Linked DNA regions of Homo sapiens. The protein of the gene in region 3 interacts with the protein of the main gene of each other region in a pairwise test. Each region holds a gene or a part of one and is shown on either strand. Other genes may lie near its edges. The genes, in order: U2AF1, SLC16A2 and VEGFA.

Region 1 (3,653 bases), on a different chromosome or scaffold from region 3:
CCTTAGCCTGTGCACCCAACGTGGGCATCTGACTGCTGGCACACGGGTCTTTGAGCTTGCTCAAAACTCTTTTTATCTTTTTTTTTTTTTTTTTTGAGACGGCGTCTCACTGTCTCCAGGCTGGAGTGCAATGGCGTGATCTTGGCTAATTTTTGTAGTTTTAGTAGAGACGGGGTTCCACCATGTTGGCCAGGATGGTCTCAATCTCTCGACCTCGTGATCCACTTGCCTCGGCTTTCCAAAGTGCTGGGATTACAGGCGTGAGCCACCGTGCCCGGCCCCCTTTTTATCTTTGAAGATAAAAAATAACTTCTTATTTTCTAATTCTGAGAATGATTTAAGTTCACTTTCTAACCTATCCGGGGCTGTTTTAGTTATTTTTGAACTTCCAGGAATCTGCTTTCGAACCCAAATTTTATTAAGTGTAACTACTCGGACAGCCTGCCAATCATATCACAGGATATCCCAATTGGAAAGCTATTGGGAATGTACCTTCCTCCCCGAGTAGAAATCAAGTTATAAACGGCCAAAGTAGCCTATTCCAAAGGGCAGATTTTAATATTTCAAATTCACTTCCTTCCCACATAAGAAGAATGTGAAGAGGAGAAAATTATTCACATGCTCAAAGTTTTAGCAGGTTTGAGAAATGGTTTTGGGGTGATTATTTTAAATTATTGGCTATATTTGTTCTGCTTAAAATGTTTCAATCAAAGTGACTTGAAAGGCAGAGACAACTGCATTAAGATACAATTAAAAACTTATTTGTGACTCAGCCTATGTTAAATACTACAACTTGGAAAATAAAGCAGTTTTCTTACAGAAATATCATTCTTAAACTGGGATTGATAGTTAACTTTAACCCACGCATTTGAAGCTTATTTTTTTACATACTAAAGGGTATGTTGAAAAGAGCCAGTAATTTTAGGTAATTGATTTCTTCCTAAAATGACGAATTAGAATTTCATCTAATTTGTACAATCTGGACTCCAGAATTGGAATATAACGTAATTGCTAAACTTTTAGTTTGTAGCATATGCAAAACAAAAGTGCTGTGAACTGCAAATAAAGACACAATGAAAACTAATACAACATTCTATTGTCAGTCAAGAAAGCATATACAGTCCCCAAATAAACGATCAGGGCAAAGAATTAATTACTGTTACTCAGTCATGTACTTCCATTCACTTTTATCCCAGGGCAGGGTTGTTAACAAAAATTATTTAATAAGTGCATATAGAAACAATTTCCCTCCGCCTATTGATCTTATTTCCTTAAAAAACAAAAGAAAACAAACAAACAAAAAAACAGGTATTTTAAACCAAGGGTTACCAAGTAAATCCTGCTACCATCCGACTCAGGGAAAGAAATCTCTACTATCAGGTCAGTATTAGCACTGAAAAGCATTTAGTGTCTTGGCAGGAAAAGTTGACAAGAAAATCTCATCCACACATAGAAATGTGCACCACTGTGCAAGGAAGCACAATCCCCAGGCCACCCAGTGCAGGGCCAGCTCGAGAGGGGAATGCCCCCTGGGATCAGCTACCCCATGTCGGTCACCCCATTAACTGAGGGGCTCTGGTTCAAGGGTGTACTCAATTTAGGCTTGTGGATATCCAAGGGCACCTCAATTTTTACTGCTTTAAAACAGAATGGTGAATGGGAAGTGCCTATCTTTGGTTTGGACTTTCTGATTTTAACAAGAGTCCAGGTGTTCATTTTAATTTATCCATAAATGACTAAATTCTAATGATTCTATAGTTGGATGGCTGTAAAAATCAAATTTTAGTTTTCTGAACTTCCCAATCATACTCATCTATGATATCTCCTTCTCTAAAAATTATCATTAGGTAAATATTCACAATCTAAATTTAGTATTTCCCAGTACAGGAAGATATTGGTACCATCTACTGAATGCCCAGTTTTGATCTATTTCTAAATGGAGCAAACCAATTCCATCTCCTAGAGCTGGAGACTGTATCCAGGCAGTGTGTGGACAGAACGGACAATCTTTTCTGCCAAGGGCCTATTTGAGTGGAGCACCCCCACACGGGTTAGACGGGTCGGCACGGGGCTGGTGGGTGAGGAACTCAGGGGTCAGTGCAAGCTGCAGACCCTCATTTGGGGAACGCTCTCAGCACAATGCTCTTACAACTACAGGGTGCACTCCAAAATGGAGTTCAAGGAAAAAAGGCTAATGAGAAATAAAATCTGAAAAAATAACTTAAAAAGTTTGCTTTTTAAAAATTCCAGAAAGTGAGAGAAACATTCAAATTTTGTTGCTCTAAGAGGGAAGAATATGACTCGACGTTTAATTCCAGTACATTCCCTCTAGGATGACGGCCAAAGTAAAGGAAGAAGGGGCAGCAGCAGCTCCAGACTGTTTTTTTTTTTTTTTTTGGAGACGGAGTCTCACTCTGTCGCCCAGGCTGGAGTGCAGCGGCACGATCTCAGTTCACTGCAACCTCCGCCTCCCGGGTTCAAGCGATTCTCTGCCTCAGCCTCCCTAGAAGCTGGGATTGCAGGCATCTGCCACCACGCCCAGCTAATTTTTGTATCTTTAGTAGAGATGGGGTTTCACCATGTTGGCCAGATTGGTCTTGAACTCCTGACCTCATGATCCACCCGCCTCGGCCTCCCAAAGTGCTGGGATTACAGGCGTGAGCCACCGCGCCCGGCCCAGCTCTAGACTGTTTTAAAGGGCACCCTTTCCAGTTACTTTTTCCCTTTTAACACACGGTGGGAGTTCAAATCTCCAAAAGAGGTTTCCATGGGGTCAGTGGGACGAAAGCTCCTTGCCACCTCTAGTGAAACGCGGTCCTTGACACTAGCACGGCAGACCAGATGGAGTGGACACTGAGCTCTGACACGCAAGCCCAGGGAACCGGGGAAGGAACTTGTATGAACTTACAGCGCAAACCGTCAGCAGACTGGGAAGAGTTTTGAGGGTTACGGTAAATGTTCAAGAGGGCAATGGTCTGAAATACAAAACGCAACAACTTTATATTATGGAAAATTAAAGGTAAACACTTAACCGGCTGCCTCTGGCAAGTGCTTCAGTTGAGATTCAGTGCTGAAAAGAGAGCAAGTTATTTTCTGGAGAAGCAGAGGCGTTTTCTCAGTTGGCGGCTGCCTTGAATCCCTAACACTGCGGTGTAACGGAGGTCTCATGATATGCCCATCTTGTACTTCTGCTTACAGAACGTGAAAACTCTCCTTTTCAAAATTCCAATTCAGGTAAAAGCACAAATAGTTTGCCAGGCTAGCACCAAAATGTTCTTAGATGTGGCAGAAAATTTTTAATGAACTCGGAAAGAATAATGCTTACATAAACTGATGGAAAAAATTACTGTATTAGAGAAATACAATTGTTACATATCATGAAATCTCCACTTCCTGGAGGAAAAATTATAATGGTGAAATAAAACCCACACTTACTGGGCAACTTACCTTATTGATTCCTTAATATTCCTAAGAGTTTTAATTTTACACAAAGAACTTAATAAAGGCCAGGGGTTCAGTCACTGTAAAGACCAATGAATGGCTCAAAATGTTGAAATCCGTTTCACATGGACGGACCTGCTCTCATGACAAATGTCAATCAATGGAGGTGGCCGGGCCAGTGACCCTCCCTAGAAGGGATAAGCCTCCTGAAC
Region 2 (3,653 bases), on a different chromosome or scaffold from region 3:
CTGTCATCAGAGGAGTCCCAGAAGAGGAAAAAGGCAGGGCTGAAGAGATACTTGAAGCAATAATTGCTGAAAACTTCCCAACTCTGGTAAAAACATAAGTCTGTAGATTTAAGAAACTGAGCAAATCCCAAAGAGAATAAACTCAAAGAACTCTATGCCAAGACACATCATAGTCAAACTTTCAAAAGCTAAACACACAGACATGCACGTGCATGCACACACACACACACACACACATCTTGAAAACAGTAAGAGAGAAATGACACGTTAACTCTAGGGGAAAAACAATTAAAATGACAGAAGATTTCTCATCAGAAACCATGGAGGGCAAAGTGCTGAAATAAAAGCTCTCTTAGCTCAGAATTGTATATCCAGTGAAAATATCCTTCAGGAATGAATGAGGAAATCAATACATTCTCAAACGAAGGAAAACTAAGAGAATTTGTCCCCAACAGACCTACCCTAAAAGAATAGCTAAAGGAAATTATTTAACCAGAAAAGAAACAATAGAAGAAGGAATCTTGGAACATCAGAAAGAAAGAACAGTGGAAAAAGTAAAATTATACATAAATGTGACAGATATTATAATATAATTGATTTAGATTTCTTCTCCTTTTGTGTTTTTTTTTCTTTCTTTTTTTTGGAGAGAGGCTCTCACTGTGTCACCCAGGCTGGAGTGCAGTGGCACAATCATGGCTCACTGCAGCAGCCTCAACCTCCTGGGCTCAGGTGATCCTCCCACCTCAGCCTCCTGAGTAGCTGGGACTATGGGTGTGCACCACCATGCCCAGCTGATTTTTTGTAGAGATGGAGTTTTGCCACATTACACATGCTGGTCTCAAACTCCTAGACTCAAGTGATCTGCCCACGTTGGCCTCCCAAAGTGCTGAGATTACAGGCATGAGCCATAGTGCCTGGTCCCTTTTGTGTTTTGTAAATTAGGTTTAACAGTTGAAGAAAAATTATAATAATGCCTAATGTGGTTATTAATAGATGTAGAGGAAATATTTAAGATAATTTTATTATAAATGAGGGAGGGTGAGGAGATATAAGGGAGGTTAGGTTTCTACACTCCTCTCCAACTAGTAACATGTCGACACCAATGATGTTGTATACATATGATGTGATACCATTATATATATATAATGTGATTTCTTTGAGTACATTTTTCAGTGGCCACTAAAAAAGGTATACAAAGGAACACACTTTAAAGCACAATAAATAAAGTGGAATTCTAAAAACTTTTAAAGTAACCCATAGGCAGGCAGGATAAAAGAATACAGAGAAACTAAAAACAGAAAACAAACAGGAAACAAAAATAAAATTGCCCTAATGTATCAATGATTACATCAAATGTAAACGATCTAAATATATCAGTTCAAAGACAGAGATTGGCAGAGTGGATAGAAAAAAAAATCATGACCCAGCTATATGCTGTCTATAAGAAACTCACTTCAAATATGTATTTCCAGGGAATTATGCTGGGTAAAAAAAAGTCAATTTCAAAAGGCCACATACTGTATGACTCCATTTATATAACTTTCTTCAAATTTGTGATTGCTAGGAGTTATGGGTCGTGGGGGAGTGGGCTGAGTGTGACTGTAACACAAAGGAGATCTTTGTGGTGATGGAATAGTTCTGTATCTTGATCACAATGGTGGTTTCAGGAATCTACCCATGATAAAATGATACAGAACTATATGCACATATTGTGCCACTCCTAATTTTCTGGTTTTGATATCATGTTATAGTTACATAAGGGGAAACTTGGTGAAGAGTTCATGGGACCTCTCTGGACTATCTTGGCTATTTCCTGTGAATCTATAGTTATTTCACAATTAAAAATTTTTTTTTAAATGAAATAGATTAATTTTTAAAAGCTATATCAAACATAATTTAAAGTTTCTTTGACTGTACAAAAAATTCCTTATAAGAATAATCATCAGTTTTCATTATATCATAGACATTCAGAAGGGTCAAATAATGGTCAGTTCTAGTTATAAAATGTCAGTAAGATGATTTGCTAAATTTAATTATTTTTTTTCTCTTTGACAATACAACTGAGCTACTTTTTTACTCTGGCCAGAATAAAGATACATATATCATAAATGAGATCTTGAACTGGCACTTTCTGCTTTCCCGCCTTCTCCCCACCTTTAAAAATAACATCAGATTTATTGAGATATAATTACATATGGTAATATTCACCCTTTTTTACATGCTCAGTTCTATGAATTTTGACAAAAGAATACCACCATCATCAAGATATGTAACATATAAAGCTTAGAAAAGAGAGACTCAAGATGAAACTTGATAACATTTTCATTACCCCCAAAAAGTTTCTTCATGTCCCTCTGTAGTCAATTGTCTCCCTCATCCCTCCTCCTGCCACCTACTGATTTGTTTTCCTGTCCCCATAGTTTTGTCTTTTCTCGAATTTCCTGTAAGTGGAAGGAATAATTTGAGTCTGGCTTCGTTTACTTAGCATAACGCCTTTGAGATTGTTCAAGTTTCAGTAGTTCATTCCTGTCTATTGCTGTGTTGTATTCCATTGTATTAATGTGTATTCATTTGTTTATCCATTCACCAGTTGAAGTACATTTGGGTTGTTTCCAGATTTGCACAATTATGAAAAAAAAAGCTAGTGTAATCATCTAGGTTCAGGTTTTTGTGTGAACATAAGTTTTCATTCATCTTGAGTTAATATCTAGCAGTGGGTTTTCGGGATCATGGTAAATGTATGACTAACTTCACAGGAGGCTGCCAAACTGTTTTCCAAAGTGAGTACTGTTTTGCATTGCCACCAGCAGCGTATTACATTTCCAGTTCCTCCATATCCTCCCAGTATTAGGTATTATCATTTTGTAAAAACCTTTCTTTGCTGGGCACCATTGCTCACGCCTATAATCCCAGCACTTTGGGAGACTGAGGCAGGTGGATCATTTGAGGCCGGGAGTTTGAGACCAGCCTGGCCATCGTGGTGAAACCCCATCTCTACTAGAAATACAAAAAATTAGGCATGGTGGCGTGCGCCTGTAATCCCAGCTACCCGGGAGGCTGAGGCACAAGAGTTGCTTGAACCCGGGAGGCAGAGGTGGCAGTGAACCAAGATTGCGCCTCTGCACTTCAGCCTGGAGACAGAATGAAACTCTGTCTCAAGAAAAAAAAAAAAGAAAAAGAAAAGAAAAAAGGCTTTCTTGGTAAGGGCTATCTCATTGTGGTTTTAATATGCGTTTCTCAACTTATTAGTGATGTTGAGCATCTTTTTATATGCTTAATTACTATTCATATCATAAATGTATGTGCACATGTGTAATTGTGTAATCTCTGTTCAATTCTTTTGCCCATATTTTAAGTTAGATTGTTTGCTTTATTATTGAGTTATGAGAGTCAACTCACTCTTGTATGGTGGATACCGGTCTATTGTCAGATTTTGTGTGCTGCAAAATTTTTCTGTCTATGGCTTGCCTTTTCATTTTCATAACTATTTTTGAAAAGCAGAAGTTTTCAAGTTTGATCAAGTCTAATATATCAAATCTTTTCTTTTATGGATCATACGATTTGTGAATATCTGCAAAATCTTTGCCTAACCAAAGGCCAGGAAGATTTGTCTCCTATATGTTCTTCTAGAAGTTTTATAGTTTTAAGTTTTA
Region 3 (3,653 bases):
GGAGCAGGAGTGGGAGGGAGGGCTGTGTATCAGGCCTTGTGCCTTCATTTGCAACTGCGACAGAACCTCTGGGAATCCCGGTGTGGGGGAAGCGGCTACCTTGGGAGCTGGCACGGAACCAAGAGCAACACCAGCCTGCTCAGCACGACCTGGACTGGGAGGCAGGGCTGGGTGTCCTGGAGCCCTGGGCAGGCAGCAGGATGGGGTGGGAGTTAAGGAGGTCTGGGGAGGAGAGGCTTGGGCGGTACTTGGCAGGGAGTTCTCTCCCCAGCCTGTCAAAGCCTGCTACACCATCTCACCAGACACTCTTCCGAGCCCAGGCGAGCCCCCTACTCTCCCCATGGCAGAGCAGTCATTTGGGGAAACAGGAAGGGGGGCAGGCTGTAGCCTGTCCCCTTCAAGAGAACCAGAGCTCTCCATGCCTGCCAAGCCCAAGAGAACACACCTCAGGATGTCTGTCACAGGGAAGAAAGGAGGGGGAGAAGGGACCAGAGAGGGCAAGTCTGTCCCCCTTAGGAGAAAGCACCAAAGGGTGGAAGGAAGGTTTCCGCATCCCCTCGCTCTGGAAGCTGGGAGCTGAGGGAAGAGGCAAGGGGTTGAGGCCTGGTGGGGGCTTCAATGTCCGCACAGCACTGGAGGCAGACAAGATGGTGTGGGGGAAAGGGCAGGGCACAGGTGCTCTCTCTCAGTCTCTCTTTCCCTGCAAGCTCTTGCTGATGCCAGCCGCCCACCCTGTCTTGAAGGGTTACTGCCGCCAGACCTTGTCCCCCACCCCATCCTACCTGCCCCTTAACACGGAGCACTCACAAGCCTCTGAAAATGACCAACATTCAACTTTTTCTCCCTGGCCAAGAGGGCTGTGTGTCTGCCGCCTGCCGCCTACAGGAGGGCATGCACTGAGAAACCACCCTCCAGCCGGCCTCGCATCCAACTGCACCGTCACAGCAGCCACCAAAAGAGGCCATTTCCTCTGACACACAAAAGCTGGCCTCTCTGCCACCCACTCCCTCTCCCCACTGTGGGTGTCCTAGAGCAAGCCAGTGAGCCAGTGTCCACAGTGCCCCCTGACACACCGAAACAGCAAGTCCTGGTCAGGAATGATCTGGAGACCCAGAAGGCATTGTCCCTTCCAAAGGAAGTGCCAGGCTCCTGGCTATGTTTTCTCACTAGCCCTAGAGCCATCATCCTGGAGTTGGCTCCATCCCATTGTTGCTGCCACCACAAGTCCCCCACAAGACCAAGTCCCTGACCCAGGGAGGCTATGGGAGCCCCCAACAGAGGTAGCCAAGAGCCCCAAACCAAGACAACCGGCCATGGAGAGGGAGAAGTGCTAAAGTCAGGGCCACTTACTTTTCTTGTCTTGCTCTATCTTTCTTTGGTCTGCAATGGGTAGGGAGAGAGAAAAGAGCAAAACAGGGAAGGGTTAAGATGGTGATGATAATGATAGGGATAACAACAATAATAATCACAGTAAAAACAGCATTTATTATGGAGCAACACTGTTTTAATCTTTTCATATATAACTTGTTTAATCATTATAACAATGCTATGAAGTATACTACTATTGTGCCCATTTTACAGATGTAGAAACTGAGGCACATTGAAGTAAAATGCCAAAGGTCACATAGCGGGAAGCTGGACGGGGGCCAAAAAGTACAGCATGCTTAACCCTGGCACAGATCAGGCACCCTGCAGCCACTTGCTGATAATGAATCCGTGACTACATCCTCACCTGCATTCACATTTGTTGTGCTGTAGGAAGCTCATCTCTCCTATGTGCTGGCCTTGGTGAGGTTTGATCCGCATAATCTGGAAAGGAAGGAAGCAGATCACAGAGGTTAGTGACCCAGCCAGCCATACCCAGATGGGACAACCCTGGGGCTCCTGCCACTCAGCACCCAGGGGTTCTGCAGAGCAGGGATGGGTGGTGGAGGCAGGGAGGACCAAGAGCTCTAGCAGGAAAGAGGCTCAGGCCCACCCCAACTCCCCCAACCCTGCTGGCCTCAAGGAGCCCTTGTTCCACTTGAGGCCAAGACATGGCTGCAAGGGTTGGCCAGGCTGGGAATTCAAATCCTAGGTTCTTACCACTCCCCATCCCCTCCCCTTCTTTCATCCTCTCTAGGCTTCACCCTGACTCCTAGTAGATACCCGAAAGCAACCCCCTCCCTGTGTTTCACAGCTCCCTCCCACCCTATCTGGGCTGAGATGTGCCCCATTACCAGGTAACACCAAAAGACTTTTTAAACTCTCCATGGACCAGGCTCATCCAGCTTCCCAAACAAAGCCCCCAAGAAGGGGGGGCACTCAGGACTCTCTCCAAGAGAGGGAGAGAGGGGCTCCTGACACAGGCATCCATCTGTCCCCTCCTGAGCCCATGGGCAACCATCAGGGAGAAGGAGATGGTTGGGGCTTGCTGGGAACCTGGGCTGGGAATGAAGCATCTTCTCCACAGAAGGCAAGACCCCACCATACCTCCCCTGTGCAACTCAGGGGCAGGAGCCAGACAAGGCAAATCTAGCCAGGAAACGACCTGGGACCACCTGTTCCCAAAGTGTTACCCCCCTCCCTATCCCCCCCTTGCCCCACTTCCCAAAGATGCCCACCTGCATGGTGATGTTGGACTCCTCAGTGGGCACACACTCCAGGCCCTCGTCATTGCAGCAGCCCCCGCATCGCATCAGGGGCACACAGGATGGCTTGAAGATGTACTCGATCTCATCAGGGTACTCCTGGAAGATGTCCACCAGGGTCTCGATTGGATGGCAGTAGCTGCGCTGATAGACATCCATGAACTTCACCACTGCATGAGAGGCGATGACACATGAGCCCGGTGGGCGACACAAAAGATGGCTAGCCCCTCTCTCCACCCAGCTCTGTAATGCCACTCTTTGGAGCTTCCGAATCAGGCAAGTCCTTCCAAAATCTAACGTAAGTCCCTCCTACTGTGTTTGAAGCACTTCCCTAAGCTTTCCACCATCAACACTGGTGAAGGCCTGTTTTCATTCCAGAGATCACACGATGTACTCAAGTTCCAAGGGACATGGCCTGCCACATCTGATCCCGCCACCTCACTGTGACAGCTGAACTGAATCCTGGGCCAACCTCGATGCCAGAGGACAGTCTGAGTATGGGTATACCCCATGGGGATGCTCTAAGCTTTCCCTAAAAGGAGGAAGAGCCAGCTTTGCCAAGCTAGTCTCCAGTTTCCTACGTCCTCCCCACAACCACTACCATAACGTCAACCATACCAACAGCTGTTTATTGAGCACTTACTACATCCTGAGTACTGTGTACAGTAGTCCACAGCTATCATTTCACACAAGTTTCTCCACATGGTACTATTAGACACTATTGAGATTCCATTTTACAGATGGGGAACAGGAGGCTCAAAGAGGCTAAGTAAGTTGCCCCAAGGCCGCACAGCTAGTAAGTAAAGGAGTCAGAATTAGCTGACATCAAAGTGTTCCCAAGCCTATATTAGGCAAAAACAGAGGAGGCACCTTTCAGGAGGAGGCACCTTTCCCCCTGCCAGTCCTCTTCCCCAGACATGAGCTGAGAAGGTGGTGGGCATCAGCACAGGGGCTGGGCCCTCCTGGAACCCACAGGTGGCAGTGGGCGGACACGCTGTGCCAGCCCTGCCAGCCACTGATAAC

Evidence for each region.
Region 1: the proteins of VEGFA (region 3) and U2AF1 interact in a two-hybrid assay, tested with the Homo sapiens proteins (one large-scale study listed by BioGRID).
Region 2: the proteins of VEGFA (region 3) and SLC16A2 interact in a two-hybrid assay, tested with the Homo sapiens proteins (one large-scale study listed by BioGRID).

Annotation. Positions count from the first base shown.
Region 1 is NC_000021.9:43,097,545-43,101,197, forward strand, and holds part of U2AF1 (splicing factor U2AF 35 kDa subunit), read right to left. Parts: intron 2,976-3,653; coding exon 2,909-2,975; intron 1-2,908. UniProt on the Homo sapiens protein: Plays a critical role in both constitutive and enhancer-dependent splicing by mediating protein-protein interactions and protein-RNA interactions required for accurate 3'-splice site selection. Recruits U2 snRNP to the branch point.
Region 2 is NC_000023.11:74,515,433-74,519,085, forward strand, and holds part of SLC16A2 (monocarboxylate transporter 8), read left to right. Parts: intron 1-3,653. UniProt on the Homo sapiens protein: Specific thyroid hormone transmembrane transporter, that mediates both uptake and efflux of thyroid hormones across the cell membrane independently of pH or a Na(+) gradient.
Region 3 is NC_000006.12:43,776,616-43,780,268, reverse strand, and holds part of VEGFA (vascular endothelial growth factor A, long form), read right to left. Parts: intron 2,801-3,653; coding exon 2,604-2,800; intron 1,810-2,603; coding exon 1,733-1,809; intron 1,381-1,732; coding exon 1,351-1,380; intron 1-1,350.